Regions from separate parts of the Homo sapiens genome. Here regions 1 and 2 are each linked to region 3. The links come from fine-mapping of genetic effects on gene expression. A gene starts in region 3. Each other region holds a variant in brackets. All regions are shown on one strand. Distances are from middle to middle.

Evidence for each region. PIP is the estimated chance that this variant, and not a neighbour inherited with it, causes the effect. A credible set is the group of variants that fine-mapping cannot tell apart.
Region 1: its variant is the best candidate, but not a certain one, in a credible set for the expression of SKAP2 in lung (TOPMed, PIP 0.81).
Region 2: its variant is the best candidate, but not a certain one, in a credible set for the expression of SKAP2 in esophagus muscle (GTEx, PIP 0.61).

Annotation. Positions count from the first base shown.
Region 1 is chr7:26,650,874-26,661,446 of GRCh38, forward strand. It overlaps a transcript of SKAP2 not described here. Among named protein-coding and RNA genes, the nearest start is that of LINC02860, 18 kb to the left of the region's middle. The variant A/C (reference allele first, on the strand shown) is at 6,207.
Region 2 is chr7:26,720,426-26,730,998 of GRCh38, forward strand. SKAP2 (src kinase associated phosphoprotein 2) reads right to left here. Exons shown (of 13, transcript NM_003930.5): 7 at 6,457-6,581; 8 at 5,498-5,561; 9 at 5,003-5,140. Among named protein-coding and RNA genes, the nearest start is that of LINC02860, 88 kb to the left of the region's middle. The variant G/T (reference allele first, on the strand shown) is at 6,314.
Region 3 is chr7:26,859,959-26,870,531 of GRCh38, forward strand. It overlaps SKAP2 (src kinase associated phosphoprotein 2), which reads right to left and starts at 4,632. Exons shown (of 13, transcript NM_003930.5): 1 at 4,405-4,632. The coding sequence starts at 4,471. RefSeq lists an enhancer at 4,870-5,199.

The DNA.
Region 1 (10,573 bases), 210 kb before region 3:
ACAGTTTCCATCCCAAAGGGCCCACTGCCTTCTGCCCCATGGAATTTAATGTCAACACCACTGACAGCAGCTTCTGCAGCCAAGCTGCGAATAGACAAGTCACCAAGTTGAATGCAATGTAATCATGTATGAGGATGCGGAGTGGGCATGGGAATTAGGCTGTGAGACTATATCTTATCTGCACTACAAATGTGTTGTGTTAAAGCAGTCTCTCCTCATCTGCTTAAACCCTTGGAAACCAGTATTTCCTTCTGGTCATTCATTATAATTCCCCGTAATCCCAATACTTATAAAAGCCAAACACAACATGGCACTGGTTATAAAGTTTTAATCAGGTAAAACACTCAGTATTCATTCTGCTCAATTTTATCAGTGAGAAAACAGGCTCAGAGAGGTCCAGTGGCCTCCCTGAGGTCACCCAGCTGGGCACTATTGGGCATCTTTAGTTCATTTAGCCTTCTGAGATGTAAAGCTCTTCTCTTTCCCCAAGAGGAGATTGTGTATACCTATGGAGGAGACCTGAAGGGTGCCCTCAGGAAAGACCTCAGCACTCCTGTCCCCTTCTTATGTCTGTGCTTTAAATGCAGAACCCCCCAGCTGGGCGCGGTGGCTCACACCTGTAATCCCAGCACTTTGGGAGGCCGAGGTGGGCGGATCACCTGAGATCGGGAGTTCGAGACCAGCCTGACTAACATGGAGAAACCCTGTCTCTACTAAAAATACAAAATTAGCTGGGCGTGGTGGTGCATGCCTGTAATCCCAGCTACTCAGGAGGCTGAGGCAGGAGAATCGCTTGAACCTGGGAGGCGGAGGTTGCGGTGAGCCAAGATTGTGCCATTGCACTCCAGCCTGGGTAACAAGAGAAAAACTCCATCTCAAAAAAATAAAATAAAATAAATAAATGCATAGCCCCTTTGCAAGATCAGGGCTTCAGAGACTGGACAGTCGGGATAGATCCATTATTTTCTTTTAATGGCCAAAGTCCTTGGAAAGATAAATCAAGACCTGGATCTGAATTTGCTTGGCCAGCATAGACATGAAGACACCTTTCAATAGGCTACTGGGCCTGATGCATAAAGACAACTACACAATCAATGAAGAGAGGGAACAGCCTCAGATTCTGATGACCACTGATGTTTCCAACTGCAAACCATGCCGCACTCTCGAGATGTTCCCAGAGGCCAGATGAGAACAGAGTTCGGTGGGGAGCACATTTTCTTTCCTTGAAGAGATGAAGGGTACCATCCACCACTTAATTTCTGATAAGACATTAAATGTATGATTCTCATCTCTAAGAAATGAAACGCTGAGCTGGATTTTTGGATCAATGGAATACCTACTCCTGTTAAAGCACTTAAAAAGGAAAACATCTACAAAATGTCCCATTAGGCTGACAAATTTATAGCAGTATGAAAAGTGTGCCAGCAGTTTCAAAGCCGAATAGAGCGTTGTGTTTAAAGAGTATGAATGGATCTGAGTTCAGCAATATTTCATCTACATGAACAAGTTTAGCTATCACATCTCTTCCCAATATTTCCCACATTTACTTTTAACTAGGCATACGTATGCCATGACAGAATATGGACATCATCTTTAAAAATAAGTTGTAAAATGAATAATATTAAATGGACTTTCACAGCGTGAAGACGTGGAAATATATTCTCATCTTGATGTGTGGGGCTGTACAGACATAAATGCCATTAGCATTAATGGTAATTATGTGCGTAAATCCCCATGCTCTCAATGAGAATATGCCCCTTAGTTTGCAAGTGCAATGACTGGCTCATTTCTGAGGCTAGAAACAGCTGATACTTTACCCCCTCTAACTGGGAGAAAGATACGGGGTGGCTCAGAGCATAAAATCTGATCACCCACTTTCCCAAAACATGCAATTCAAGCACTTTAAAACTCCTTCACCTCAGAAACACTGAAGATGTAGGAAAAAGCCTCAAACTGCGGTCTGAGTATTCTGGCAATTTATGCTATATCATTCATAGGTTCCTGTCACTTGCTAGGGTGGTTACACTACAGGAGCTATGTGTTCTCATAACAAACTCATTTTATTATGTTCTGATAACGATCGAGGATAATATTTTTCAGCCAACCCAGAAGAGGCTGTTTACAATACAATTTTTCAGAAAGTAAGCAAATTTAGCATCCTGTTCACCAGAGCCAATATATTCTAATCTTATTAAAACAGGCAGGCAGATGACAGACCCCAGGAAAAGGTTCGTGTCTTCTCTTTTCAATTCATAAATTAATAAGGCAGTGTGACCCAAGTGTTTGGTTAGGCTTCACCTTACACGGTAGGAAAACAAAAAAGTCTTCTTGGCCAAAAAGTCAGAAAGCATTAACAGAAAAGGTCGGCTGGTTATAACTTTACAAACACTTCATCAGGGTAAGATGGAGCAAAGTGACATATGTAATTAAAGTATACTAAAAAAACAAGTCATTGTGGTTTTCAATTACAATGGTACTAAGAAGCAACCATATTATTTCTACAAACCATTTTCACTTAGCACAGTTCAGATGGAATTATTGCCATGACCTTTTAAAAATGTGAAAGAGTGAATCAATACCCTTTCAGAGGCAAGACTGCAGGAGCTGAATTGGCCATGCAGTAATGGTGTGTATTTCTGCATCAGAAGGCAGTTGAAACCTAATTATCGTCAATCACATACAAGGTAGCTCCACGTACTGATGAGCCTGTGCAGGCAGCAGCGTGCATGTGAGGATATGGGTGTGGGGGTCTTCACGATAGACAAGCACGTGTGCCAAAGAGGTCAGGGATCTTGGATGCTTTGGGCCAGTGGAGTGGGGCTTACAGGTGAGTTATAGGGACTGTCACTCATTTACAATAACTAACACTGGCCTGTCAGAAACAGCCACCTGTAAATGATGTATGAGTGGCTGGCAGCCTGCCATCCCCCAACAGACCTTGCAGCCAAGAATCACATTTTATTGTCGAGGTCATTGGAATGCTTACTTGGATACATGCCATATATTACTTAAAAATAACAAACAGCCAATGAGCCACATTTCTTAAGGCTCAAGGGCAAAATAGCCAACCTGCTTTTAGAAAATAGGAAACAAACATCCAAGATCCATTTTAACAAGTGATTTTTAAAAACTTGCTTCTCTCCAGATACAAAGAAGCAACACTATGGAGAGGCCTGAGAGTGGTGAAATGATGTCAGATGGGGAGAACACATATGAATATTCACTTTTCCTAAGCTGTTTCAGACACGATGCCAGCAAAAACCAACAACAAAAGCAAATGTCTTGTAATCAACAACAGCGGTAGCCCCAACTGCCAGACTATGAAAGCCATGGAAACCAGTTTGCACAGGAAGGAAGGATCTCTGGTTTGATTTTTCCATTCAATTGCATAATTCTCAAATCTGCCTGAGAATGGTAAAATGATCCTATGTACCATGGCAAATGTTTTTCTTGCACAATCAATCTTTTTATATGCTATCAGAAGGTCATATTGTTTTTAATTTTATTCAGTAGCCTAAATATGGGTAGAAGTCTCAACATTATGCTATTACATTTCAACACAAGAAATACAGCATTATCAAATGTTATGGATATTAAGCCACAAAGAAGTGTTTGGATAACCTCTTGCAACTTTTCTTGAAAATTAAATTTTAAAAAACCTACTCTTCTATAACCGTACAACTGTAAATGTTGTCCCCTCTAGTCTGGTGTTGAAGATCTCTGCAACAATCAGCCTTCACAGCCCTGCTCCACTGGCCCCCACTTGTTCCCACAGAAATGAAAGACTTGGCATATTTGTTACCATTATACAGTAATCGGACAATCTTTTGTTCAATGCTCTTAATGTTCTTAGAATAAAAACATTAAAAATGCACTTAAAAAAATAGGAATACTCATTACACACAAGCAATAGTTTTTAATTGAGAAAAACAGTCTAATTGAAATTACATTTGTTATGCAGACACTACCAATAATTATCTTGGCTTTAAATATGCAAACACAAAGATTCCTTTTGAATTGATAACTCTTTTCAGAAGTGGCGACTACTAGTTGAATTCAGTGATCCAGGGACCCGTTGGTGATATCAGGTGGTCCCCAGGTGTATCAGATGGCCTCTTAGAGCTGCTGTGGTAAAGCATGTGGCAGTCAGTTACAAGTGATGTAACTAAAGGTTGAAATCCTGTGCCTACTATTGCTCAGGGGTTTTGAGGAGATCACCACTGCTAAAAGCAGTGACTTACAGGTAAGAAGGAACTCTTACAGGATTCCATAACTCACTTGCTGGGCTCAAAAACATTGTGCAAAAGCCTCTCTCTTAAATAGCTCATGGCCAGAGACAACTTTAACACCTCTTCTGTATGATAAATCATGTTATTGCAATTTATGTGACACTAGTATCTACTGTACAGTAACCACTCCAAGTCCTCTTAAGCGGAGGCTTCTCAATATACTGATTTCTAATGCCCCACAAGTGCCATAAAGTGATTGCTGTTGACCATTGTCTTGTTTTAATGTCCCCTAAATAATAATAAACTTGAATGCTAAAAAAAATTATTGTCATTCAGGAATATATTTCTTGTAAACCATTGTATGATGAAAAAAATAAATTTCCCTCTTGGCAACTTAATTTGTAGATAACTGAGGTTGTTTTTAGATAGGAGTCCTACACTGAATTTGGAATCTAGGTGACTGTTTAATGTCATTAAGGGAATATTGTATTGGTTACAATGGCTCAGTAAAGTAACTGGTTTCTATGTGGTTATATCAATCTATTTCTGTAACACCGTACACTAGTTTTCCCCCTAGAGTACTCCTTGTAATGCTGAGAAAGTGTCAGAAATAATGACTGTCTACCTATATCTGCAATAAAACGTAGAGCATGGATATTATAGTTGTAAGTATCAAAGATTTATTTCATGACTGCAGGTAATGATGAATCTTTTAGCACAACTAATGTCTGGAGGAAACCTCTCTTCTTCTCTGAGCTGTCACATGGAGACTATTTATAGGGCCCTTAGTGCTGTGGGGTTTTAGCATAAAGAGGCAATGTGTCTAAGGTGCCACTGGATGGAAATGTTAGCAAGGGCTTCCTCTCATTGAAGATCTTTTAGTAGATGGCATTAGATTCCCTCTTTGTGTGTTTACGTCCCCCCAAAGACAGGGGACAGATGTTTAACATCAGCCTATTAATCCCTTAGCCCAGGTTCCTGTGACAGCACAAACCCAACAGAATGAGCCCTTTGCCTTTGCTCAGTGTAAATGCCGCAATTTACTGCTGATTTACAGAACAGGGTCAGGCCATTAGAAACTTGGCAATCCTCAGTACAGCTGGAAAACAATATGCATGATAAGCTAAAATTCAATACCTTCTTGCACTAATTAAATGGCTTCCCACCAGGACAAAAACACAAATTACAATACAGGACTTTTCTGCATCCCTATGCATTTTTCTACAGCTGTGACCAAGCTTTATTTGTATTTTTCTTTTGGATATTAGGTTTTAATTCACTTCCACTCTTTAAAGATTGTGTTCATATCATAGTCGTTCACTGTGTCATTCCACTGTTATACTGTTTCCAAACAAGTTGATAATAACTTGGTTTCCTCTGGTATGAGCAGACAAGTGTACAAACAAAAACACAGATATGTTCTGAAAGCCTTTCTTGAATCTCCGTTATACAGATGTGCAGATCAGTTACAGCTCTTCTCTTAAAATAAACCAAGAAACTATCAAAAATATTATACAAACCCCAAAGAGCTTATTCTGGAATCAAGACAATGAATCTTATTGCAGAAACTCTTTCATAACAACACAGGACAGTAAAGAGCAGGTAACTGGGTTTGAGAATGAGCACTGCTTTTTGAAAGAGTGGAACTTACAAAGATATTTCATACAAAGAGTTAATATGGGTGAAGTACCTCTTACTTTCTATGGTTCATCTACCAGGATGTGTCTCCGGCCCCAGTGCAAAAAAAAAAGACCTTCTACAAAAGCAAGCACCTATACTCCCAGATTATGAGTCTATGAACCCCACGGCTGCCCGAGATTTTCCTGAAGAGTGAATAATATTTAGATCATATGTGGGTTGCCTCCAGATCACCCACTGAGAAGCAGAAGCAAGATTTTGAACAGCTGGAGGTTTAAGTAAAAAACAAGAATAGCTACAGGCTTTATCTTGGATCCAAACGGTCTGAATAATAATAAT[A/C]ATCATAAAGAAATACCTGGTAACTATAAATCTCATCAACCAATGTAAAAGAACATTCTAAATCTATTAATATTTTCAAAGACATTATCTTTCTGCCACCCCACTGCTTTGTGACTTGTTGTATCAGCTATATTATTTGCCTTAAAGCACCATCTAAGTGTTTTTCTTCCCCTGTGAGGGGAATCTTCCACAGCCTTCGCAAGCTACAGCCCACTGCTCCCCTGCAGGAGGACTGGGGTATCATTAACAACCAAAGACACTTAAGGCACAAGTTGGAACTCCAGTGTTTCCAAACCTTCCTGCTTCCCATCAAAATTCATATCCTGTCACTGTTCTAGGAGCAGAAAGGCTTCTCATTATAGCATCATTCCCCTCTTGCAAAAAACACTGATTGCTGCACTGGTGGCTTTGGAAGGCAAAGATGTAATTTAGCAAAATAATGTACCATGCTGATTAATTTAATGTAGCCCATGACTAATTATGGTAATTCATTACATCTACAATTAGGCTAAGTAATTTATTGCACTGCAGTCTCATAAAGCAGAGGATTTATATCGAGTTTTGAATGTCACCCAAAGGACATTTCTGTACCTTGTCTTTACTGAAGCGGAATAAGGCTGCCAGCTGAGATGAGCCAAAGAAAAAAAAAATCCCCGCCCCCCCCGCCCCAACTTACGCACTGACACACACTTTGCCATTTTTGATGTTTGTATTTTGCAATTGAATTCAAGTGCAAGGAGAGTTTTTCCTGATCTCCTCTTTCTTTCTCCTCCTCAGACTGTGCCTTTGTCATGATTTGGTGTTGTTTTTGTTTGTATGCTGCATACCAATTTCCTCTCTGTAAGCTCTGGAGACCTGACACAGGAAAGTGAACAATATATAAGAAGCTATTGCGGTCTTCCCAAATATTATTTGTAGGCATTTGGCGGTGATCAGAGAAAACGGGTAATTGTGCTACTGAGGTCTGTTGCTTATTCTGCAGATAGTACTGCAGTCGACTTCAACAAAGACCTCATCTTCTCTTTGCCGCATGAAAAGGGGACATATCCCCTCACTTAGGAAAGACGCAAACATAGCATTATTTTGAAATACAGCCTCGCTTGTACCCTGCAGCGGGGTTTGCTCTAGCGATGGGGTACTTTGGAGACCAATTTGTTTAGCTGATCACTGTCTCTTTGACGTGGCTGCAAATGTTACCTTTCTTTTTCAATCAAAAACACAGCAGGGGGTGCCATCTGTTTGGCACAGGCCTTAGCTCACTTCCCCAATGCCTTTTTGTGCAGATCATTTTACGTGGCAATTTGCTAAAATCTTTCATTCCTTGGTTTTACTAAATATAAGTTTCCAAAATGGGCTGTTTTCTCAGAATGTCAGCAAGACTCACAAATGAATGCAGTTTTTCCTGAACAGCCAGTATCAGATCAAATGGAGCATTTTTCAGATTTTTTTTTTAATGAACAAATACCTCACTGTCATCTGATTGTTTACTTAAAACTGACATGTTTACTGAGGATGGTGAAAACACATTTATCCTACTGAATTTCACTTCGTTTTCTTTGTTTGGCTTCTACAGAGGTGCACTGTCACCAACACAGGCATCACAATTTTTAAGATCCTTGAAGAGAATAGGTAATGCAAATGCATAGAGCAACCATATTAAATAGTCATTAGGAAACAACAGCTAGCAAGAAAGTGGTTAACTATTTTCCCCAGCTCAGATGCTGTTCAAAGCAATGAATACCCACCCCCCACCCCCCCACCAACTCCAAGTAGGAACAGATGATCAGCACCACGTGCTGAAGCCACAGGGATGCCCGTGGATTTCCAAGTGCTTTGTAGAATACAAATGAATTATCCTCATTCTTCTCCTAGCAGAGCATATAGGCCAGACCTCATTAGAATTCAATATCACTCTGCTTTTCTAATGTTAATGTACCAGTTATATAAGAAATACGTGTGTTGGTGGGGCGGGGGCTTATTCCACAATTATGTTCGACGTGATATCATAATTCTGAAAACTGGACATAATCTTTATTAAAGGAAATTATTGCATTTTGCCGTTTTATCTTTTGCTTCTAATGTAACTTAAATTCCCATTCTAATAGTGGATTATAAGGGCCTTAATTCTTTGTGTCTCTCTTAAAGCTGCAGTGACTACAATACTACTGGCTTTATGGCTTTTTAAAAAATGCCGTGACTAAAGATCAGATTGTGAGGGCTCCATGTCCATCTCACTGTGAAAGGAACACAGCACATTACATTAATAAACAACTGTAGGAGTTTTCTTCATCCAGGAATAACTCAGGGCATTAAGGCTTGAGGTCTTTTGTCTAGAGTGCAGCAAGAGGTGTAATGAAAACAAAAACACCAACACATAAAAATACAATTTATGCCCTTTTATCAAGTGAAGAAAAAGTTGGTTAACGTTTGAAAAGGGAGCAGTAATGTAAATTTATTGACAATTTTATTGTAATAATGAGATGTTTACACAGTCTGGACATTGTGGCTAAATCACTTCTAGCATGTTTATTTGCAGGGAGCTGTTTTCTGGGCAATGCGGCAGGTTCATTAAGAAGACATACAGTATTAGGATTCAAAGAAACAACCAGCTCCCATTCTCCCCTTCCCAGTTATATGTGTGTGTGTATAGTTTTAAATATATATATACTTATAAATAATGAAGTAAAATACAGAATTCCCTTCATAAGAAAAACAACTTCCCCTGTGGCCCCAAAATAGCTTGAAAATAAATGTCGTATTGGTATCTTAATACATAGCATTAGAAAGACAACCTTTAATCACTATAACTAGCTTTTAATACCTAATGTGTAAATGGTAATCTGTTTTTGACTAAGAATAAATTATGGCAGAGTTTAGGGCGGCTCTTGCTTTACCCTTTTCTTCAAAAAACAAAAAAACCCATGGTAATTGTTTTAGATGAGATGCTTCTCTTCTCAACATTTTTTTAAGAGAAAAAACTCATTCAGAGAGAAATATTTCTCTTAAGCAGCCTCAAACCAGATTAATGGATTAAAATGGCACACTTGAATAATGTGACTAAATTTATCTCTATGTGGCTCTTTCATTTTTTGTGTGTTTCTATACTAATCTTTAATATGCTGCTCTGATATGGTTTTCATGTTTCCAAACTGAGCTAAAATGAAAATGACAGATTTTCAGTTATGCAAAAATAGCAATGAAGTGTCAGTAGAAATACATTGTGAACAACATAATTTTTAGGAAAGATGTGAAATGAGAATAATCTTCTAGCATGAAACGGGTCCAATAACAAAATATTCAGGCAATTATATCAATTTTTAAAATTTCAAAACTGTTTAAAAATTAAGGCACTAAATGCTAAGCTACAATATGTTTCCAGCCTCAGTATACATCCATTAAAATTAAGTAGTATCAATACAGAGTATTTATTGCTATAGATCATAGCTTTAGGAGAAGCAAAGGATGGTATACTTATAGCTTGAAATTCTCTACTATAATCACTTAGGAAAAGTTTAGAAAACAGACTTATCTTTAATCACAGTTGCCACAATTTAGTATAGTCCCATTGTTTTCCTTTATCAAAGAGTATGTAATGATAATAATATAAACACATTATAAAAGTAATAGTTTCCCAGCTTAAACTGGTAAGGTTAAGATGGTAAGAGAAACTTTGATTTTAGAAACCAGTGGTAACAGGTACACAATGTGTCTATTTTTTAAGCTGATAGAATTGATTAATGGTTCAAAATAATCAAGGAATCACATCACAAAGCACCGTTTTAAAGAGAAGTGCTAAGAATTAACTCTATACTACCATGACATCATCCGATGTTACCAGAATTATGTACTACATCACGCTATAGATTACAATTGCTAGACTAGAAAATGGAATCTTCAGCGACTCTGCATAACAAATATACTTAATAATCTTAAATAAACTCAAACTTACTTTGATATCTTCTAAGTAATTCACATGAAAAATGAATTTTTAAAAAATCAGTTCATGAAAGCCATTATTATTTGAAGGAATATGCTCAATTTTTTAGATAATTTAAATTATTTAAGAGTCCTTTGCATCTTTTATTAGCTTTGCCTAAAGTTATAACATTAAAGCATTAAGGTTACATGTAACGAGGTTCTGGTTTGCCCTCATTTCTAGCCCCATATTTTCACAAACTACAAACCAAGATTAGTGCTATATTACAAGGCTAATTAGAGAAAATAAAATTGTGTCACTCCTAGATATGCATCTGATGTTTTTTAACTAGAAAGTGTGTATTCACACACAAACATTCATAGATAGACATCTGGAAGAAACAGTTCATAAAAGGATTAGACAATGGGCAAAGGAAGTCAGCACAAAAATT
Region 2 (10,573 bases), 140 kb before region 3:
ATATTCAGCAAAGATAAAAATAATAAATATTATATGTGTGTAGTGACCCTATTTTATGAATGATTTCATTTTTTTTTATAACTTCGGATAACCCTCTAAGCAGATTTTAGAGCTGAAACCATCTGTATTAGTCTGTTCTGACTCTGCTAATAAAGACATACCCAAGACTGGCAAATTTATAAAGGAAAGAGGTTTAATTGACTCACAGTTTAGCATGGTTAGGGAGGCCTGAGGAAACTTACAATCATGGCGGAAGGGGAAGCAAACATGTCCTTCTTCACATGGCAGCATCGAGAAGAATGAGTGCCCAGCAAAGGGGTGAGCCCCTTATAAAACCATCAGATCTCATGAGAACTCACTCACTATCACGAGAACTGGATAGGGGACACTGCCCCCATCATTCAATTATCTCCACCTGGTCCCTCCCAGGACACATGGGGATTTTATGGGTACTACAATTCAAGATGAAATTTGGGTGGGGACACAGCCAAACCATATCACCATCCAAAAATTCAACCCTAATCTAGTTATCTACTTGGGAAAAACTATTCCCACAATATCACCACATTGATAACTTCACCATTCAGTACCTAGTTTAAGAAAAAATAATGTTAGCAGGCTGCCTAGACTAACAATATTAAAATACTGAATATATGTGGTTCTATGAAAATTAATTGACATCTTTCCATTGCATTCCAAAGAAGAAAGGAGAAAAATTGTTTGGTGAAGTCAGGATCTACTATCACTTAAAACAATGTTAATACCACAGACTGCAGGGTCCCCTGTAACCCTGATATTAACTTAGTAATATGAGTGATAATTATTCAGGAGGAAAATAAAGCCAAAATGTATTTTGGGGGCCTATAACCACTTATTGACTAAATTAGCATTTGTGTCCATTTGCTGTAAACTACTTCAAATTAAAGTACCCAAACACTGTTCTTTTTTATGTATATATAATAGTCTCATGGAAAAAAATTATAGCTGCATTTTACTTTATGTTCTATTTTAGATGCAGATAGTTGGACTGAATACATTTAAAATGTAATTGAATGGCCAAAGGATAAAAATATCCTTTTCTGACTCAGAATAGTTCAATCTGTCATTGTAATTTAAAAAAAAATGAATTCACACTTAAAAAAAATAGGTTAATGGAATAGAAATTTGTCTTCCTGTTTTATGTTGCCCTCTCTCCTCCAGTCCACTTGCCAGAAGACATTTCAAGTGCAATCCCTCTGAAAGCTACAGATTTAATAAGTTAATGGATGGTTACCATTCTCATTACTAGGCTGATTCTATTCAGTTTAGATCTAGAAAAATCTTTTTGTTGTTGTTGTTTCTGTACAATTTCCTGCCATTAAAGAAAAAAAATCAAGTGACATAGTGAATAGAAGAGAAGAGCAAACAGGGTTGGTTTCTGCAGCAATTTCACGAGTATTATTTTCCCCTTTTGAGATTCAAAATGAGACAAAGACACTCCTCTGTATTTCTAATGAAAAAGTGAGCAATAAATTTACAAACCTGTGCTGAGCCAAATGAACTCATTACCATGTTAAACAGTTTAACACATTTTGATCAATATATTAGCTGCACAAACACAAATATGCTATAGTATTATTACAATGTAAACAAACCTGACTGGCCTATGCTAATAAGCAATAAGACATAAAAGATGTAAAAGGATTAGGATATTTGAAGAAAAGCCAAATACCTTTAATACTCCCCAGAAATGGCATTCTCGCAACTCTTTTGTACATATGTATAAATCCCTTAAACACAAAGAAGTCTTACAAATTTATTCCTATTCCTTTACGAAGTTAGTTAAAAATAAATGAACAAGAAATTAAACAGAAGGTACTGTAATGAAGTTAGAATATTCTAACTGAAAAACAATTACAATGAAACAATTTAGATTCCTGTAGAATTATAAACATTTTTCAAGGGATATTATGCAATGCAATTTTTTTTTTTTTTTTTTTTTTTTGAGACACAGTCTCACTCTGTTGCCCAGGCTGGAGTGTAGTGCCTCAATCTTGGCTCACTGCAGCCTCCGCCTCCCGGATTCAAGTGATTCTCCTGCCTCAGCCTCCTGAATAGCTTGGATTACAGGCACCTGCCACCATGCCCGGCTAATTTTTTATTTATTTTTATTTTTTTATTTTTAGTAGAGACGGGGTTTCACCATGTTGGCCAGGCTCGCTTCGAACTCCTGACCTCAAGTGATCCACCTAACTCGGCCTCCCAAAGTGCTAGGATTACAGGCGTGAGCCACTGCGCCCAGCCCATTGCAATTTTTAAAACCACGTTTTCTTCTTACTCTTGAAACTCAAAACACTGCAGGTTTATTTCATAGTTTTTAAAAAATACACTTATTAGAGTAAGAGCTTTCGTTTCTCAGAAAAAGAGCTTTGTGATTTAAAGTAGCATAATAAATGCTTAGATTTCTCTTCAAATACATTTGTATACCTCATCTTTCAACTAAGAGGATTAGTTTTCAACAATGCATAATTGACAGAAAATTGTGTTGAAATTGTAGTATTATTTAATTCTGGGAATTTAGCCAGTCAGATATCAGAGATACATAGTTCTTTGCACAGAACTGGAAAAATATCAACAGTATGTAAATGTGCTTACTGCTCTTCCATTGTTCTAACTCCTCTATCAAAATTATATTCAAATTTCACAGAAGTGAAAGCAATAAGCTTAATTCTTGTCCTGAAAGAGAGACAATTGTTTTAATTAAAAAAGTTACCTTCCTAGTTTCAGACATTTAATCAAACAAAACCTCTAACTCTGAGACACCTTTAGGGCCTTTACTAGAAAAATCCCCTCTGTAGCCGTTGGCACAAACTTGACAAACTTGCTGAACCGTGCAGATGTTGAAGCAGCTCTCAGTTACATTGGGGAAGAAGGGAACTAGACATTCCACAGCTGCCTACAACGGCTTCCTTCCCGGGGCACAGGTGCAGGCTCCATCAAGCTCGATCACTTTGCAGAGCAACTGGGGATCCCAAGCAGGGGAAAAGAAATTCCAGGGCAGCTTAAATTTCTCCCAGTACCACAGCAAGAAGTAACACTACTTAAAAAGTAACCAGTTACTTCCAACAATTATGTGTGAGGGTGGGTGAGGAGGGGGGCAAGGAAGAATGAAGAATAATATCTCCAGTAAGAAAAAATAAAAGATGTTTCATATTTTTAAAATTTCAAGCTACTCAGACCTTCCTTAGGTCTTTGTTATGAAAATAACTATGAATATCTGGTCTTTATTCCTGATCAATTTTTTTTTTCTTTAGGGGTGGGGAGAGAACAGCCAAGTTGAAAAAATACAGAACTTAACAGTTATTTCAACAATTGTAATGTAACACATTCATTGCAGGGTTTTAAAAGGATGTAATGGCAGTAATATCGTGTTTAAATGTATTCCACTCTTCCATTTTATGAGTATACATTCTCACAAGTTCTTTTAAACATTTTTAAATACTAAAATAATTGTATTAATGATATGGTGTGACCAAAAACAAGCAGCCAGGGAATATTCTTCCCTACTTGAGGATAACTGATGCTACAGCAGATGCCATTTCCTTAGGGTAAACCAGAAAGGAAGGGGTTAATAAACATGTAGCTCCACTAAACAACTGAAATACACAGATCACTATTCCCCATAAAATTATACTTTTATACTAATCTTCTGGGGTAGTAAAATACAATATGTAGATGCATACATAGTTTTTATACCTTAAATTTATAATATTGTTAAAATTATTACTTTTTACTTGGTTAGAAAACCATTACTGTACCACCACATAAGCACTTGCAAGAATTCACCAGATACAATAATAAAACAAAAATGATGGTGATGTTACAATTAATTGTGGGATCAAGCACTATGCTGAAAGCCTTCCATAAATCACTTCACCTACCCCTCCCAATGACATTATTTCCATTTTATAAATGAAGAAATTAACTTATAAAGTCACTAAGCTAGTCAATGGTACAGCCAGAATTTAAATTTTTTTCTTCTAAAGTCCATACTCTTGGTATTATGCTGTATTGTCTTGAAAATGACATTTGTACATTAATTTGGAACATTTTAAGTATTTTTGAAATCAATTTTAAAGGTTTAACATTACATCATTAAATTGTTATATTCAGAGCAAAATGGCCTCTCTACATGAGATGTACTAGTTAAATCTTGCTTATATTGCTTATGATACCTTTTTCTTCTCTAACTACTGATTTTTTAATAGCCAAAAAAGCTCATTTCAGCCTAGAGTATTAGTAATACAATTTCCTAAATGTTTTCATATGTTTCCTAAATTTCAGATGTCTTTTTATTTTAGATTGATCCTCATGGCCGCAAGTCAAGTAGCTAATAGATAATTAATTTTATGTTACATAACAGACAGGCATGTAAACACTAAACTAGGTCTGAGCATTTGGAATAAGAAAACTTTTTTATTCCATATTGATGCTAAAATATCAACAGGAAGACTTGAAGCCTCAAAAGGCCTTTGTTTATAGTTCAACAACATTCCTCTGAGACAGTGCAATATACTACAAGCAAGGAGAAATACGAGGCAGAAGTTGGTAACATCTGGGGTGTGCATAGAACTTCTGGTTAATGGAAGTTCCAAGATGTATAAATAAAAAACGATGTGTGAGTTGGTGGAAAAAACTGTAAGGCAAGTCAATTTTTTAATTAAAAAATTATGTAGCATAAACAATGCTAATGAGCCACAAGTCCCAAGAGATTAGTATTGTATCTGCTTCATTTTAATGTTTCATTCACTTTTCGTAAGTTACATCTACTCACTTGAAATATCTCAAGCAGAACCCTTTTTGTAAAATAGAGTTTTGAAGATATTCTTTGTCCTTGTTCTCAATAGGTCACCATTTTCTACTCAAGCTGTCGAGGACAAATCACACACACAAACACACACACACACTCACACACACACACACAGCCCTAAAATCTTTAAATGAATCACCAGAAAGTAAATACCTGGAAGTTCTTCATAAATTTCATCATCTATTGGTTGACTGCTTGTTAGTGGATTGCTTATTGGTAGAGGATGATCAACATCATCATATAATTCTCCTCTCTCATCATAATCCTCAGGAATAATATCAGATTCCATATCTATAAAACACATTTCATGAAGTAAATTTTAAAAGAATGCAGAAGATATTTTTAAAACTATACTTTATAAATAAATGCAGCCCTACAAAGCAACAACAATATTGTTATATGTTATGTCCTTAACTAAAAACATGTTTAAAAATTGTTTTGTAAATATGTGAATTTTAAAGTAAGCCAATTGGTACTTATAGAAAAGATGCTGTTTAAAATCTGAAGTGAGTGGTCTGTATTAATAACAGTCACATTCAAGTTGGTCATTCTCACAGAAGTCAATAAGCTTTTGTATATGAAAACCCAAACTACTCTGTTATTTAGTATTTAAAGACTGTGATAACTTGTTCGATTGATTTATCTTACCTTGCAATACAAATTTCAGCTGCTGTACCCATTCTTCAGCATCTTTGGGAGAAGCTGCTGTAAACTAATATAAAACAAACAGTAAGAACGAAAATCACCATAGTAGGAATGAAAGGTATGTTGTATTCTTACCATTTCTTTAAGACTATTAGTAATTCTTTTCATGTCTAGTGGAACTTTTCTTGCAAGGATGCTTCTTATAATGTACAGTTAATTTTGACAAATTTATGCAATTGAAGCAGAGGATGATGAATTTCAAACGCTGATCAGCAGCTGGCAGCTGTGCAGGAAAAAAAGCTGCTTCTCTTTCATCAATGTCAAAGACAGAACTGATGAACAAAATTTGCCCTTGACAATTAGAAGACACCCATGAATTTCTTTAGACTGCTGCACACAGTTTTCTTAAAAATGTTCTTGTCAGATTCCAACACACTACCTGACAACTTAATTAACTGGCTTTCAACTGCAATCTCAGATATTTAAAACTTATTAAACATACATTCCATATTGATGCCTAGCTGATAGCTATTGAATTGCAGAGCTGATGTGTACTTTTACCTTCATTTTCTCCCACACTCCTAAGCAATACAATATGTATTATCACTCTGATATTTTTGTTTTAATAATTTTACTCTTTCTGCTATGTAATTCTTTTGGAAGATCACCTAGTGCTATGCAACATGTGATCACCTATGTTCTATGCAACATGTGTGCAACATGTGAAGTAATTGATAAATTATATATTCTCTTTATCTTTTTCAAGAAGATAGTGTGTGAATTAATCTGAAATTTTTAAAAATTTCCTCTTATATGAAT[G/T]TTCAATGCATAATATATTTAAACATCAGTATTTTTATTATTGTTAACATGTCAAGGAAAGTATTAATCAAATGTTAATGTCTCTATAAATGAAATCAAAACATTTTATCAACTTAATTTCAAGGCAACATAAAAACTACAACCTGATATATACGTTTATCAGGAGCAGAGATTTCAAAACAGCAATCTTTCTTTCCATCCTTTCTTAGAGTGTTATTCATTCTGACACTGTAGCCATCTATTGCAAATTCACCTTTCTGTTGTTTGTCTGTTGAAGATAAAACCAGTTAGAATTTCATTTACTAAGTATTAATGCTCAATTATCTTTTATGTAAAATTTCTTCATCAATTCTTGGAAATAACATTTTTTGGTCATATTGCTTTAGTAATATAATGCTTAGGTAATGTTTTTAGAAATCATTTTTAATTCTGAAACATGGAAGTATTAGGGATGATTGGACTTACAAGGAGGTCTGCAGATCATGGTCTTATTTGGAAGGAAGTATGGAAACATGACACTCTAGGGTAGGGAAAATTCAGGAACTAGAACATAGAACTTGCTAGACAAACCCACCACAAACCTTTGGCTCTTTCAGATTTAGTAGGCCAGTGGGAAGATCTGTCCAGCTGAAAACTTGTCGGGCTTTATCTACTGTTATCTCCTTTCACCTATCCCTCCCCAGCACCACCACCAAAAAGAAGCTTCTAAAACAAAAGTTTTCTTTAAAAAAGGTCTCCTAACTTGGTACAAATTTATCTCTAACCTTACAAAGCAAACCAAAACTAAACTAAACTACTCATGACGAAAAAGATGTGAAGGAAAAAAAAACTATGTGGATAAAGAAGAGTGGTAAAGCAAGTACAGAAGCATTAGTTACCAAAAATAGAGGGAAAGTTTCTTATCCAGTCAGTGAACAGTTAAACTAGTAAAGCACATTTGAATCTCACATGATAAAGAGGCAAAAGATGATTACAGCTTTGGTCAGATATTATTTTAAAGACAAGTAAAGTGCGAATATAACAAAGGACTTAATATTCTGAAACTGAAAATAAAATTAGTCAACCTTCCTACTTCACCCAGTTACACCATTTTGATAGAAAAACTATACAGCTATAGGTTTATTTCCTAGATTAACAAACAATATTAAAACCATGAGTAGGGACAAACTCTTTTACTGAGCTCGGGGCAAATACAGAAATGCTTTCGTGTTGTGGGGTGTGCTTTCTCAGTTCAGTGTACCAATAAAAGATACATCTCCTTTTCTTAAATACACAAGTTAAATGCCTAAAGTAACTAACATATGTTAGGTCATAGAGATTATATCTTGTTCAAAATATCAAATGAGAAAAAAAATCTCAGTTCCTGGGAAACTCTAATCACATTTAGTCATAATTTACATCTCTCTGAATGTCTAAAGAAACAATCAAAGTTTATTTCATGAAAAAATTCTACAATAAACTCTATGTTTTTCACAAAAACGATACAGTACTTTAAAGATTAGAGAAGCATTTCCCAAAGATATTAATAGGTTTCTGTGATCAAATCAATTTGGGAAACGTTTTGCCGAATTAAACAAGAGTTAAGCAGTTTTGTTAGTTCAGGCCTTCTTGGAGCCCTTAGTACATTTACATAGTAATTAAACTTCTATAAGAAAAATTTAGTATGCAGCATTTCCAAAAATTATTTGTCCGCGGAATCATTTTTCACAGAATATTTTATGGTACTCCCAGGATATATTTCGTAAGACACCTAACTAGGAAACTATTGGGAAAAAAGTATTAAAATGATAAATGGTTAAGCATGGTTGGTTCTTGTAAATTCTCAAAAAAAGACTAAATCATTCACTCACTCATTTGACAAATTGATACCAAGCACTTAAAACCAGCACGCAGCATTATAGGTTTGCCGAGATAAAAGCTAGAACACCTTATCAGATCTTTCGCGCCACCTTCCCAATGATCTACTAAATTGCAAAAGGAACTTAATGTTCACTACGAAAAGTGGAAGTAATGTGAGGCAAAATATCAAAGCCATATTGGACAATTTTGAGAGAGTTCCTTAAACTCTCCAGAAGAAAGAGAAATTTCAGGGACCAGATTTAGAGGAAAGCTGCTCCCTTGCTGCGCAAGGGTTCAATCGCTCCACTCACCAGGTCCATCTGACCTAAAACCTATGCCTTCTACCTCCAATTTCGGTCTAAAATTCTCATCAATGTAACTTGAATGCAGGTGGAAATGCATGAGGAGTGGGAGTCTACACCTGGAGATATAAAATCAGCACTATAAAGATTTAGTTTGGAAGAGCTGAGGGGAACAGATCTTTCTGGGCCAGATTATCTAATAATCTAGAAATAAGACAATTAGGCAGCAAAATTAGGCAACCCCAACTCAGACTAGCAGATTCATTTTAGCCAAACCCCCTAGAAATATGCTATGGGGCTATGTATCAGAACTTCTGATACAGTCCAAGAGGAGGACAGTATCAGCCTCTACTGAGATGAACCAGAGAGAAGCCACAAATCCAATTTATAGGTAAGCATCTCAGATTTCATAGACATGTACTTGTTCGAGGATAAGAAAAGAGGAACAGCAAATACAGATGCCATAAAAATATTATGTAAAACAGAAACATAACATAGCACTTGAGAAGTAGAAAGCACAAGCGAAGTAGGAGAAATGAAGGTAAACTTTAGCCAACTGCTTTGCATATTTTATAAAAGTAAACAGATTCTGAAAGAGATGAAAGATGAAACAATGTAATATAAAATAAAAAGAGGAAAGGCTGAGACAAGTAGAAATTAAAATGAAACTGGCAAAATAAGGAACAAATATGCTGTATAAGGAAGTGGAAAATGCAGCAGCAAAACAAATGATGTATTAGAAGTGATAAAAAGTAGAACTAACATTGTGGAAAATCAGATCAGATATACCTTGAAAAGCTCACTCAGCAGATAGAAAATAAGAATAAGGGGATGGGGAAGGGACAAAAGGGAGTATGATAAATATGGAGGGCTGACAAAAATACAACATAAGAAAAATGGGTTTTCTGGAAGAAGAGTAATAAATAAATGCCAATAACCAAAGACATAATATAGCAAAAGAAAACTTCATTCCATCAAAGAAAGACCTAACTTTGCAGAACAAAATGTGCTGTTGTTTAACCAAGTAAAAATAATAAAAAGAAACTAATATCTAGACCTATCCAACTGATTGTTTGTATTTGAGGATAAACAATTATATAAACATCCAAGTCGGGTAGGGATATGGGCCCAGAAAGGTTGAACAGAGGAAACTCACAACTCTTTCTAATAGCTTTTGCAGAACCATAACCATGAAGTAGCCATATCTCCAATTAGCCAATACAGGACAGGAAGTTCAAGACGTGAAATGGGCAGACATGGCTATAAGACAACACTGTTCTCCTCCTTTCACATTAGTTTCTCTTCTGGAGAGAGAAACTTCACCATTATGTGGTAAGTCATAAGAATTTACATATAGATTAGTTCCACAATTGCTTTTTGGGATAGTTTCAAGGATACCTGTTAACAAAATTATCAAAAATAGTAAAATGCCAATCAAATAGGAAATAAAGCTATAAAGTCCATTTACCCAGCACTGTGAAAGACTAATATTTTATCTAGGTGAACTTCACAAATAGCAAAAGCTTATTCCTTTAAGTGCCAAAACTTTTAAAAATGTTAATCATTGTGATGGAAAGCTTTCTAAAATATATACTTGCCTAACTTCTCAAACAAATCTTTTAAACATAACATTTTTTTCTTAACATAGTATCATTTTGAGTATTAGTTTTTATAACACATTGATGCCTTCAGAATTTTTGAGGTGTTTGTTCCTCTATTACATTTCTCTCAGCTTCTGTTTCACACTTTAACCTAACCTCTATCATGCTGTTTGAATGTAATGTCTACAGAACTGAAGGCTGCCAGGAAAAACTAGATAATGAAATCTATTATATCAGTAACTTAATTTTACACAATCCTAATTCAGCAGGTTCAAGGTAAAAAGCAGTTGGCTCTGATTTCCTACAAAACAAAATGCATAAGGCTAATAAGAGCAATTTCCTTCTACTTTTTCACTGGCTTTTAGGTTTACAGCTGTGTTCTGGGGGTTTTTTAAGCTGTCAAAAAGACAACTCACATTTACTGAGCTTCTACATGTCAAGAACTTAATAGAACATATCTCATATACACCTGGTAATAATTCTAAGCAATAGAGGAGACATATTATATTCCCAGCACT
Region 3 (10,573 bases):
ATCTGAAATTTATGAGACAACTAAACTGTGTTTCAAATCACCAGCAGCTTTTCCTACTCTGTTGTGTCTACCTTCTTTCTAGTAATACTTTAATGCTGGTAACAGGAGCAATAAGCCCATTTGCAAATTTTTCATATAATGCTAATTTTTTAATATGTTTAGATTCTTCTTTTTGAAGAAAACCAATGATAATTTGGATTGGGTAGCTATAAAAACTGTACGTAGTATCAAGAGCCTTATATAGTAATGAGATGAAAATACTTTCAATGGACAGCCATGCCAAAAGATCTCCTCCCAAGAAAAAGCAGGACATTATATACTTAAAATAGGCAAATAATTTTCCTAACACCACATCTTAATTCATCTATATTATTTAGCCCATACAAAAAACTCTGTAAACCTCTAGTCCCTTAATTTACATATATTCCTATTTCTAGAAAAGAATATCTTGGAGGTACGATAGATTTCATTTTGAGATTAAATGTTCTCATATCAACTTTATGCTCTTTAGTGATTGCTGCCCAAATGGGGCAGGCTTGTTCTTGCTCCATAGGAAAACCCAGGTGCTAAGGAGGTAGGTGACTATTGGTGACTCAGTAGGTGGCACTCTTCCCTTTACATACTCAGCCAATGTCCCAGAAGGAAGTTATGGGACACTAGATACACCATAAATAATTCTCATAGGAAAAATAAAACCAAAATGTTGACCAAATTATAAATGGAACTTTGGAAAGGTGGAAATTAAACCGTAATATACTCAGCATTGAAAAAATTCTGCCTCTATTTCAAATAAATTGCACTCTTCACCTAGTGCCCCTACAGGAATCCCTTTAGGGGACTGATTACATACCCTAAATAATATTGTGTGAAAAAAATATTCACACATTATAATCAATGTGTGGGAAAAAATTTTCTAATGTTCTAAAAATTCCCAGTAGGGAAAATGTGGTATTTCTAATCAAGAGTGCCATGTGAACAAAACCTCAAGATCACTTATTTATTGTTTGTTTGGTTTGGTTTGATTTTTCAGAGCACTAACAATCACTATTTTCTTCTTTTAACAATGGTTTCATTTGCTAATTTAGTAAACAGAAAATAACATCTTCTTAGAGCTTTCCTTTTAAAATTTGTTGTCCTAAAACAAATGAATGAGGATGAATGAGAAGGTCTGATTGCAAGCCACTAACAAACCATTATTTAAAGGGTGATTAAACAAATGAAGGAGGCTGGAGGGAAGTGGTTCTAGTTCCTCTTACTTTCTTGCCTGTCTAGAGAAAAAAAAAAATCACATAAATCAAGATTATTCTTGCTGCTAGTCCTAGTCAAAATATTTGGATGTGAGAGAAGATTAAATGGACAAGATTTGGGATTGTCCTTTGATTTCAATTATCCAGGCTAAACCTGTTTTTCCATTGTTGTAGAAAAGAAAAAAATCAAAGGTTGCCTGTAATGCATATGGCAGCTCAAAATTTGCTTTCAACAACGAAATTCTGTAAGTCCTTTTCTGTTCATATAACCAAAAGAATAATCAACATTTTATAAAAAGCATAGGTCTTCAAGACTGACTCCACAGAAAATATAACTAAAAATCAAACTAGATAGCCACTTTTTCAATGGTATCTTTACACAACACATGTGAGTTAACAATAACAACCTCTTTTTTTTTTTTTTTTTTTTTTTACATTTCTATGGAATGGTTTTTATAGGGGAAGGAAAAAGGGAGAGGGAACAAATGTTGAAAGTATAGCATAGAACTGCCATAATCAGACAGAAAAATAAAGAGAAAGAAAAATAATAAATAAGAATACACTTGAGTACCTATCCCTTTTAAGCAGGTGAAATTTCAAACAGTACATATGACATATAATGATTTAGTTTAATAGGCATATGGAACACAAACAGATACATCTAAGCAACATTATTTTAACAGTCATTATCTTTTGATTATATATTCTTCTTTCTAAAAACAAAGGACTTTAAACCCCTGAAAAGTTTAGTTCCTTATCTTCTCTACCTTGGAATTCTAGCATAGTACCATGCATTCTAAGAGCACTCAACTGTTAACTACAACACCATTACCAATATCTCCTCAGTTTCAAAGAAATAGACTAAATAAGCCAGCAATATCTCTAATATTCAAACCAATATAAATACTTCTATAATGTTACTCTAAATCTAGTCATATACTATTACCCAATACACTTGAATTATGAAAAGAATCATGTACAATGCTAACAATATTTTTAGATGAAATACATGAAACAATTGCTGACAGCATCTATTCTTGAAGCGTTCTCTACCTCAAAAAAGATTTTAATTACAGTCAAACATAAAATGTTAGCAACTTTCCAAATAAGTTTTTTTAAAACCTGAAAAACACTGATTTGTTAAATTTCTTTAAACATAAATACGCCCCAACTCACTTCCATACTTCTTGAAAATATCCTCTGAAAATAAAGTGTAATCCAAATTTCCAATTCCAAAAGTTTTAATTGTAATATTTTTTAATACTTCATGTGTGTTTTAATATGTGATTTGCTTTAATAATATAAAATAGTGAAAATGTCAATAAAATGACTTAAAATAATTTCAGATGCTATGCTAGTATATTACCTGACTAAAGAGAGAAGGCAGAAATATATTGGAAGTTAGCATTGGCAGATAATTTAAATATGTAATTTTGAGTTTTTAGTTAAATTACACAAATAAGGGCCACAGGAAATACTTGTGATCTATGGGGATAAGAGAATAAAGGTTCTCATGACCTACATATCATATTATCTGTGATTTATGATTATGGATCCAAATAACAAACTGTACTATGGGAGGTACCAAGCTTTAAAACATGCACCCAGAGGTCTATATGTTATTTCTTAAATTCAAAAATACAGACATAGAATATCCTGAAAATGGTTTCATCTATTTTTGGAATAATGATAAACATTTTTCTGCGCTGGTTATTACAATAATATTCTGAACAAACAATTCCAGCATTGTAAAAACAAAAAATGTTAAGTGTAGTAAAACAAAATCAGTAGTCATGTGATGCAATAAAGCTGCCTGAAGTCAGTCTTTAGACTTCTTTAACTATTTCCCTTAGTGGTACCCGTTAATGACAACAAGCATTTCTTAGAGTGAAAGACTATCCCACCACAAATGCATTCAACATACTGTACCATAATCATACAAACATAAGTCTACATTCATACACTTAATATTACACTACCATATTAATAATGCCAAGCACCAAAATTGAATGACAGAATATTAGGAGATTTGGACTCACATTGCTATAGGAGTAACATATAAAATGTGTCATCAAATGTCACATTTTAGATGACATTGCTTTTTAAGAGCTAGAATAAGCAATCTGTAATCTAGTTATTCATAAGCAATACTGAGAGATAAATATTTTATAGACATCTAAAACTAAAAATCAAAATTCAGTTTCCAGAATTCTGACGTACACAAGACAAAATAAATGATGGTTGAAATTCCAGAACATTGAGATAGGTAAGATTTGTGCTACCTTAAAAACATATATTTTCTACCTTGTACAGAAATATAAATTATTGGTTCTTAGTGAACATACACACCTCCGTATCCAGTAAATTAATGAACTAGTAGTGGATTCATAATGCTACTGAAGAACCACGTTTTTAGCTCCTAAAATAAGTTCCTATAAATGGTAATGTAAAACTGAAAAAGGGAAGATAAGGGTACAAAGATGAAGTACTTTCATCGTGTCACACAGGAAGTAGAACTTTAACATATCCTTCCTTTTTTGCTTTAATATATTACTGAGGCTGGGGACAAGTGGCCATTTGAGAACCAGACCTTCTTCAAAAGTCTTAAACGTGAGTGAGCTGAATGTTTAAGAAAAACGGGAGTTTTAGAAATGACAAACTCTTTCACCCCATAACCCCTAACACCTGTGGCTCTGACAGCTCTTTGCATCTCTACATCCTCTACCTCCATTGGCCAGACCACCCAAGAACTACTTATTTGACTTCTGCTCCCTTCTGCTTGCTCACGCAGCATTCATTATCATTATCATTCTCTCTCCCTCTTCCACTCTTCCTCCCCCGCCCTTCTGTCACACACACACACACACACACACACACACCGTCTTCACAATGCACATAGAAACGTCCTGATCCCATTTGTGTAGATCACCAAAAAGGGCTTCGCCACCATCCCCGCACCAAATTTCAACACACACGTCCACTCCCTTTCTGAGACAAAACAACCCCTCTCCTCTCCTCCCTGTGCCGACCCCACTGGCTAGAAGACGTGGGAAGCGCGGGGAGGGAGGATAAGGGCTCTGAATGCTTCTGTCCCCACCGGCTCACCGTTCCCTCGCCCCCGCCCCGACAGCATTATCGCCGCCTTCCCGCTCTTTACCTGCCAACAGGTTCCTAATTTCCTCAGGGAGGGGGTAGGGAGAGGAGGTGCTGCTGGGGTTGGGCATGTTAGGGAGCGCAGGGCGTGCGGGGAAAGGACCTGCGCTGAAAAGGTGACCGACGGGGTGGGGCTGCGGCTGCGACCTAGACTCAGGCTAGCGGCCCGGATTAAGAACAGCGGGGCTACGAGTCGGGACACTGCCGGGCCGGGGCTCACAACAAGGAAGTCACTGAATCTCCAGCGAGCTGCAGCTGGACTGTCGGCCCAGCCCCGCCCAGAGGGCCGGGGCGGGGAGATGGGTGGGAAGGGACACGAAGGGCCTGAGGGGTCCAACTGCGCATGTGTATTCCTCGGTTTTCCCGGCCCCAGAAGAAAGAGCCTGTGGGCAAGCCACGCCCACCGCTACGCCGGGAAGCAGGAGGAGGAGCCACTGGTGGGAAGGGGGCGGACTGAGGCTGCGTCACCTGATGCTGCGTCACCTGATCCAGCGTCCGGAGCGCCTTACAGCCATTTTCGGTACTGGTGCCATCACAACTGCTGATCGTTTCTGCAGGATTCCAGAAAATAATGTATCCATGATACAGAGTGTATACAAGTTTTGCGATTACGCCTTCTGCGTAACAGTCAGTCCCACCGCAGTTTAACCCACAAGGAATTTTCTCTTGTCCTAAACTATTATGGCCTTCTTTGTCCGATTGAACGGAGGTAACGAAGTCTCGTCTTCCGCCAGTCGTCCGGGCGAAGCCAGTCTGGAGCCGCTCCGGAGCGCGCGTTGTGATTGGCTCTTACATTACTTTTCTACCTAATTCGTATCCTTGGGGTGACAGATTTTCCCCACTACAAGGAAGACTGGGAAGTTCTAAGCACCGTCCTTTGGCAGGAAAAAACAAACAAAACAAAACAAAAAAACAGAAGGCCGAATAGACATTGGCACCACTGTCCATCTACAAGCATCAAAAATAAAATTGCTGGTGGTGGTTAGTAGAATAAAATTATAAAATCTGCTCACTCCAACTTGACCATTTAGTCAACAAATACTTACTGTCTTCTATCTGTAAAGCTTCTTAAAAGTTTTCTCTTTTAAAAAAAATGGCTTCTTTAAAACCTTTAACAGGCATACATCTTTGTGCTTCCCAGATATTGCATTTTTTAACAAATTGAAGGTTTGTGGCAACCCTGCATCAAGCAAATCTGTGGGCGCCATTTTTCCAAAAGCATGTGCTCAGTTCATGTCTCTGTCACATTTTGGTGATTCTAACAATATTTCAAACTTTTTCATTATTATTGTATATGTTATGGTGATCTTTGAAGTTACTATTATAATTACTTTGGGACATCACAAACAGCACCCATATAAGACAGCGACTGTAATCCATAAATGTGTGTGTTCTGACTGCTCTACCAACCCTATACCTTCCTCCATATCTCTCCCTCTCTTGGGCCTCCCCATTCCTTGAGACACAACAATATTGACATTAAGCCAATTAATAACCCTACGATGGCCTCTGAGTGTTCCAGTAAAAGAATCATTTTACTTTAAATCAAAAGCTTACTTTAAATCAAAAGCTAGAAATGATTAAGCTTAGTGAGGAAGGCATATTGAAAGCCGAGACAGACCAAAAGCTAGGGCTCTTGCACCAAACAGCCAGGTAGTGAATGCAAGGGAAAAGTCCTTGAAGGAAAGTAAAAATGCTACTCCAGTGAACACACGAATGATAAGAAAGCGAAGGAGGCTTATTGCTGGTAAAGAAACGTTTTCATGTTCTGGATAGAAGATCAAACCAGACATAACATTCCCTTAAGCCAACGCCTAATCGAGTGCAAGGCCCTAACTCTCTTCAAGTCTACGAAGGCTGAGAGGTAAAGAAGCTGCAGAAGAAAAGTTGGAAGTTAGCAGAGGTTGGTTCATGATGTTTAAGGAAATAAGCCATCTTCAGAGCATAAAATTGTAAGGTGAAGCAGCAAATGCTGGTGAAGCAGCTGCAGCAAGTTATCAAAAAGATCTAGCTAAGGCCAGGTGCAGTGGCTCATGCCTGTAATCCTAGCACTTTGGGAGGATGAGGCGGGCGGATCATGAGGTCAGGAGATCGGGACCATCCTGGCTAACACAGTGAAACCCCGTCTCTACTAAAAAAAAGATACAAAAAAAAAAGAAAATTAGCCGGGTGTGGTGGCAGGCGCCTGTAGTCCCAGCTACTCGGGAGGCTGAGGCAGGAGAATGGCGTGAACCCAGGAGGCAGAGTTTGCAGTGAGCCAAGATTGCGCCACTATACTCCAGCCTGGGCGACAGAGCGAGACTCCATCTCAAAAAAAAAAAAAAAAAAAAAAAAATCTAGCTAAGATATCTGATGAAGGTGGCTATACTAAACAAAGAGTTTCAGTGTAGATGAAACAACACTTATTGGAAAACAATGCCATCTAGGACTTTCGTAGCTATAGAGTAGAAGTCAATGCCTGGCTTCAAAGCTTCAAAGGACAGGCTGATTCTCTTCTTAGGAACTATTTCAGCTGCTGACTTTAAGTTGAAGCCAATGCTCATTTACCATTCTGAAAATCCTAGGGCCCTTAAGGATTATGATAAATCTACTCTGCCTGTGCTCTATAAGTGGAACAACAAAGCCTGGATGACAGCACATCTGTTTACAGAATGATTTACTGAGTATTTTAAGCACACTGTTGAGATCTACTGCTCAGAAAAAAAGATGCCTTTCAAAATATTGCTGCTTATTGACAATGCACCTGGTCACCCAAGAGCTCTGATGGAGATATACAAGAAGATTAATGTTTTCATGCCTGCTAGTACCACATCCATTCTGCTGCCCATGGATCAAAGAGTAGTTTCAACTTTCAAGTCTTATTTAAAAAATACATTTCATGGCTGGCCATGGTGGGTTACACCTGTAATCCCAGCACTTTGGGAGGCTGAGGCAGGAGGATCACTTGAGGCCAAGAGTTCAAGACCAGCCTGGGCAACATAGTGGCACCCCATCTCTACAAAAAAAAAAAAAAAAAAAAAAAAAAAAAGAATAATTAGCCAGGTGTGGTGGTGTGTGCCTGTAGTCCTAGCTACTCATGAAGGTGAGATGTAAGGATCCCTTGGGCCCAGGAGTTCAAGATTACAGGGAGGTATGACTGTGCCAGTGAACTCCAGCTTGGGCCACAAATGAGACCCTATCTTAAAAAAAAAAAAAAATATATATATATATATATACACACATATATATACATATATATACATATATATATACACACATATATATATACATATATATACATATATATACCTATATATACATATATATATACATATATATATATATTATATGGCTATAGTTGCCATAGATAGTCATTTATCTAATATATCTGGGCAAAGTAAATTGAAAACCTTCTGAAAAAGGTTCACCATTCTAGATGCAATTAAGAATATTCATGATTCATGGGAAGAGGTCAAAATGTCCAACATTAACAGGAGTTTGGAAGAAGTTGATTCCAACCCTCAGGGATGATTTTGAGGGGTTCAAGACCAGTGGAGGATGTGGTGGAAATAGCAAGGGAACTACAGTTAGAAGTGGAGCCTGCAGATGTGACTGAACTGCTGCAATCTCATGGTAAAACTTGGAGGTATGAGGAGTTGCTTCTTATGAATGAGCAAAGAGAGTGGTTTATTGAGATGAAATCTACTCCAGTGAAGATGCTGTGAATACTGATGAAATAATAAGAAAGGATTTAGAATACTACGTCAACTTAGTTGATAAAGCAGTGGTTGGAGAGGATTGACTCCAGTATTGAAAGAAGTTCTACTGTGGGTAAAATGCTAGCAAACAACATCACATGCCACAGAGAAATCGTTCATGAAAGGAAGAGTCTCTCAAGGCAGCAAATTTCATTTTTGTTTTATTTTAAGAAATTGCCACAGCCATCCCAGCCTTCAGCAATCACCACCCTGATCAGTCAGCAGCCATTCACATTGAGGCAAGACCCTCCACCAGAAAAAAGATAACATGCTGAAGACTCAGATGATCATTATCATTTTTTAGCAATAAAGTTTTGGGGGTTTTTTAGAGATGGAGGTCTCTCTATGTTTGCCCAGACTGGCCTGGAACTCCTGGGCTCAAAGGATCCTCCCACCTCAGCCTCCTGAGTGGCTTGGGACTACCGGAATGTACCGACATGCCCAGGTGCAATAAAGTATTTTTAAGTAGGTGTGTTAGTTATTTTTCCAGACATAATGCTACTGCATACTTAATAAACTACAGTAAACATAATGCTTATATGCACTGGGAAACCAAAGTATTTGTGTGACTCACTTTACTGCAATAGTTGCTTTATTGGTTTGGTCTAGAACCTAACCTGGAAAATCTGTGAGGTATGCCTGTTTGTGTGTGTGTGTGTGTATACACTCATGTATTTATTACATATATGTACGTATATACATATTTATTACATTCAAGTGCCTCTTAACCATTAAAATCCCTCAAAACCTGGTGCGGAACCATCAACGAAAATGAAGTCGCTGAAATCCCTGAAGAACACAGAATAGAGGCTGAGGAGGAAGGCTTCAGACAGAAACTTCCTAGGCAAAGCATTTAGTGAGTATACACTGTGTATTTCTCTTAGTGAAAATATCATTGACAACATGAGTCATTGAGATGCCCCCTGCCACACCCTCCATCTCTGCTTGGCAAGGCACGTTTTCAAAACCACGCAAATGTCAGCTTCTATATTAAGCCTTCACTTAGATTTCCCTTGGTAGAGATAGTGGCTCTTTCCTAGAAGTTACTATTATATCTTACATTGTTCCTGGGCTCCAGTCACATTGTAAATTGTTTATTCCTTTACCCTCCAACTTTCACTAGATCAAACTATAGTTTTCATTAGAATCACAGAGAGAACCTATTACATTGTGAATTCTCAAATCCCATCCCCAGAGATTCTGAGTCAGTCTTTTTAGGGTGGGGCCTGAGAATCTGCGTGTTAAACAATCCTCAGCTGTAGCTCATGCCTGTAATCCTAGCACTTTGGGAGGCTGAGGTGGGTGGATTGCCTGAGCTCAGAAGTTTGAGACCAGCCTGAACAACATGGTGAAACCCCATCTCTACTAAAATACAAAAACTTAGCTGGGCGTGGTAGCATGCACCTGTAGTCCCAGCTATTCGGGAGGCTGAAGCAAGAGAATTGCTAGAACCTGGGAGGTGGAGATTGCAGTGAGCCGAGATTGCGCCACTGCACTCCAGCGTGGGGCAACAGAGCAAGACCCTGGCACTGAAAAAAAAAAGTCCTCATAGGTGAATGCAAGACATCATGAAATTTCATTTTAAGAATCACTTTGCTACTTCCCAGCTCCTACAGGGCACAAAATTTGTTGTAACTTATCTTTCATCCTCAGCTGGAACCCTAAACCTAACACAGAATAACAACTTTATTAATAGTTCATCAAAAACACTTCAGACAGTCTAATAAAAAATTAGAAAGTCAAATGCAGTATGACATTTTTGTGTAATTCTCTGAGATAAAAGTAAACTAGTTATAAAAGAAAAAATAGAGCATTTTCGAGTCTGTATCTTGCCTCTCAAAACAAACAAACAAATAAAAGACAAAAACTTTACGGCTGAAGTAAAACATGCAAAAATAACAACAAAAAAAGACACCCCTGCAAACAAACCCATTCCCCAAAATGGAATCTGAAATTCCTACCCAGATTTTAAAATGTGATGAATTATAGAAAGAGCACTGAAAATTTGAATTGTTTTTGGTGGAGGTAAAAGTAAATAAATAGTCATTTTACAATATACGTCTTCCAACTTCAAAGAATTGAGAACTATTTTTCTTAAGCTACAAAATTATCTTCCTTCCTAAAGAAGAAAACAACTATTTCATGGACATTTTATATTAGGGAGGATTCTTCCTCCTTCTACAGTTATCACACATAATTCTTTGTCTTGTCACATTTTTTATTAAACCAGGTTTCCAAATGTCCCAATCCTTTGTTTCCTTCTGATAGAACTGAACCTGTTTTTAAATTCCTGTGTCTCATTTATTTACTTATACTCCACTCATTCCACTAAGGAATTGAGGTGATTTGCTCTTGTATCAAATAGACAGCTTTCTGGAGTGGATCAAATGGACAGTGTCTACACTGCTCATTATGACAAGTCATTCTTGTTAGTGA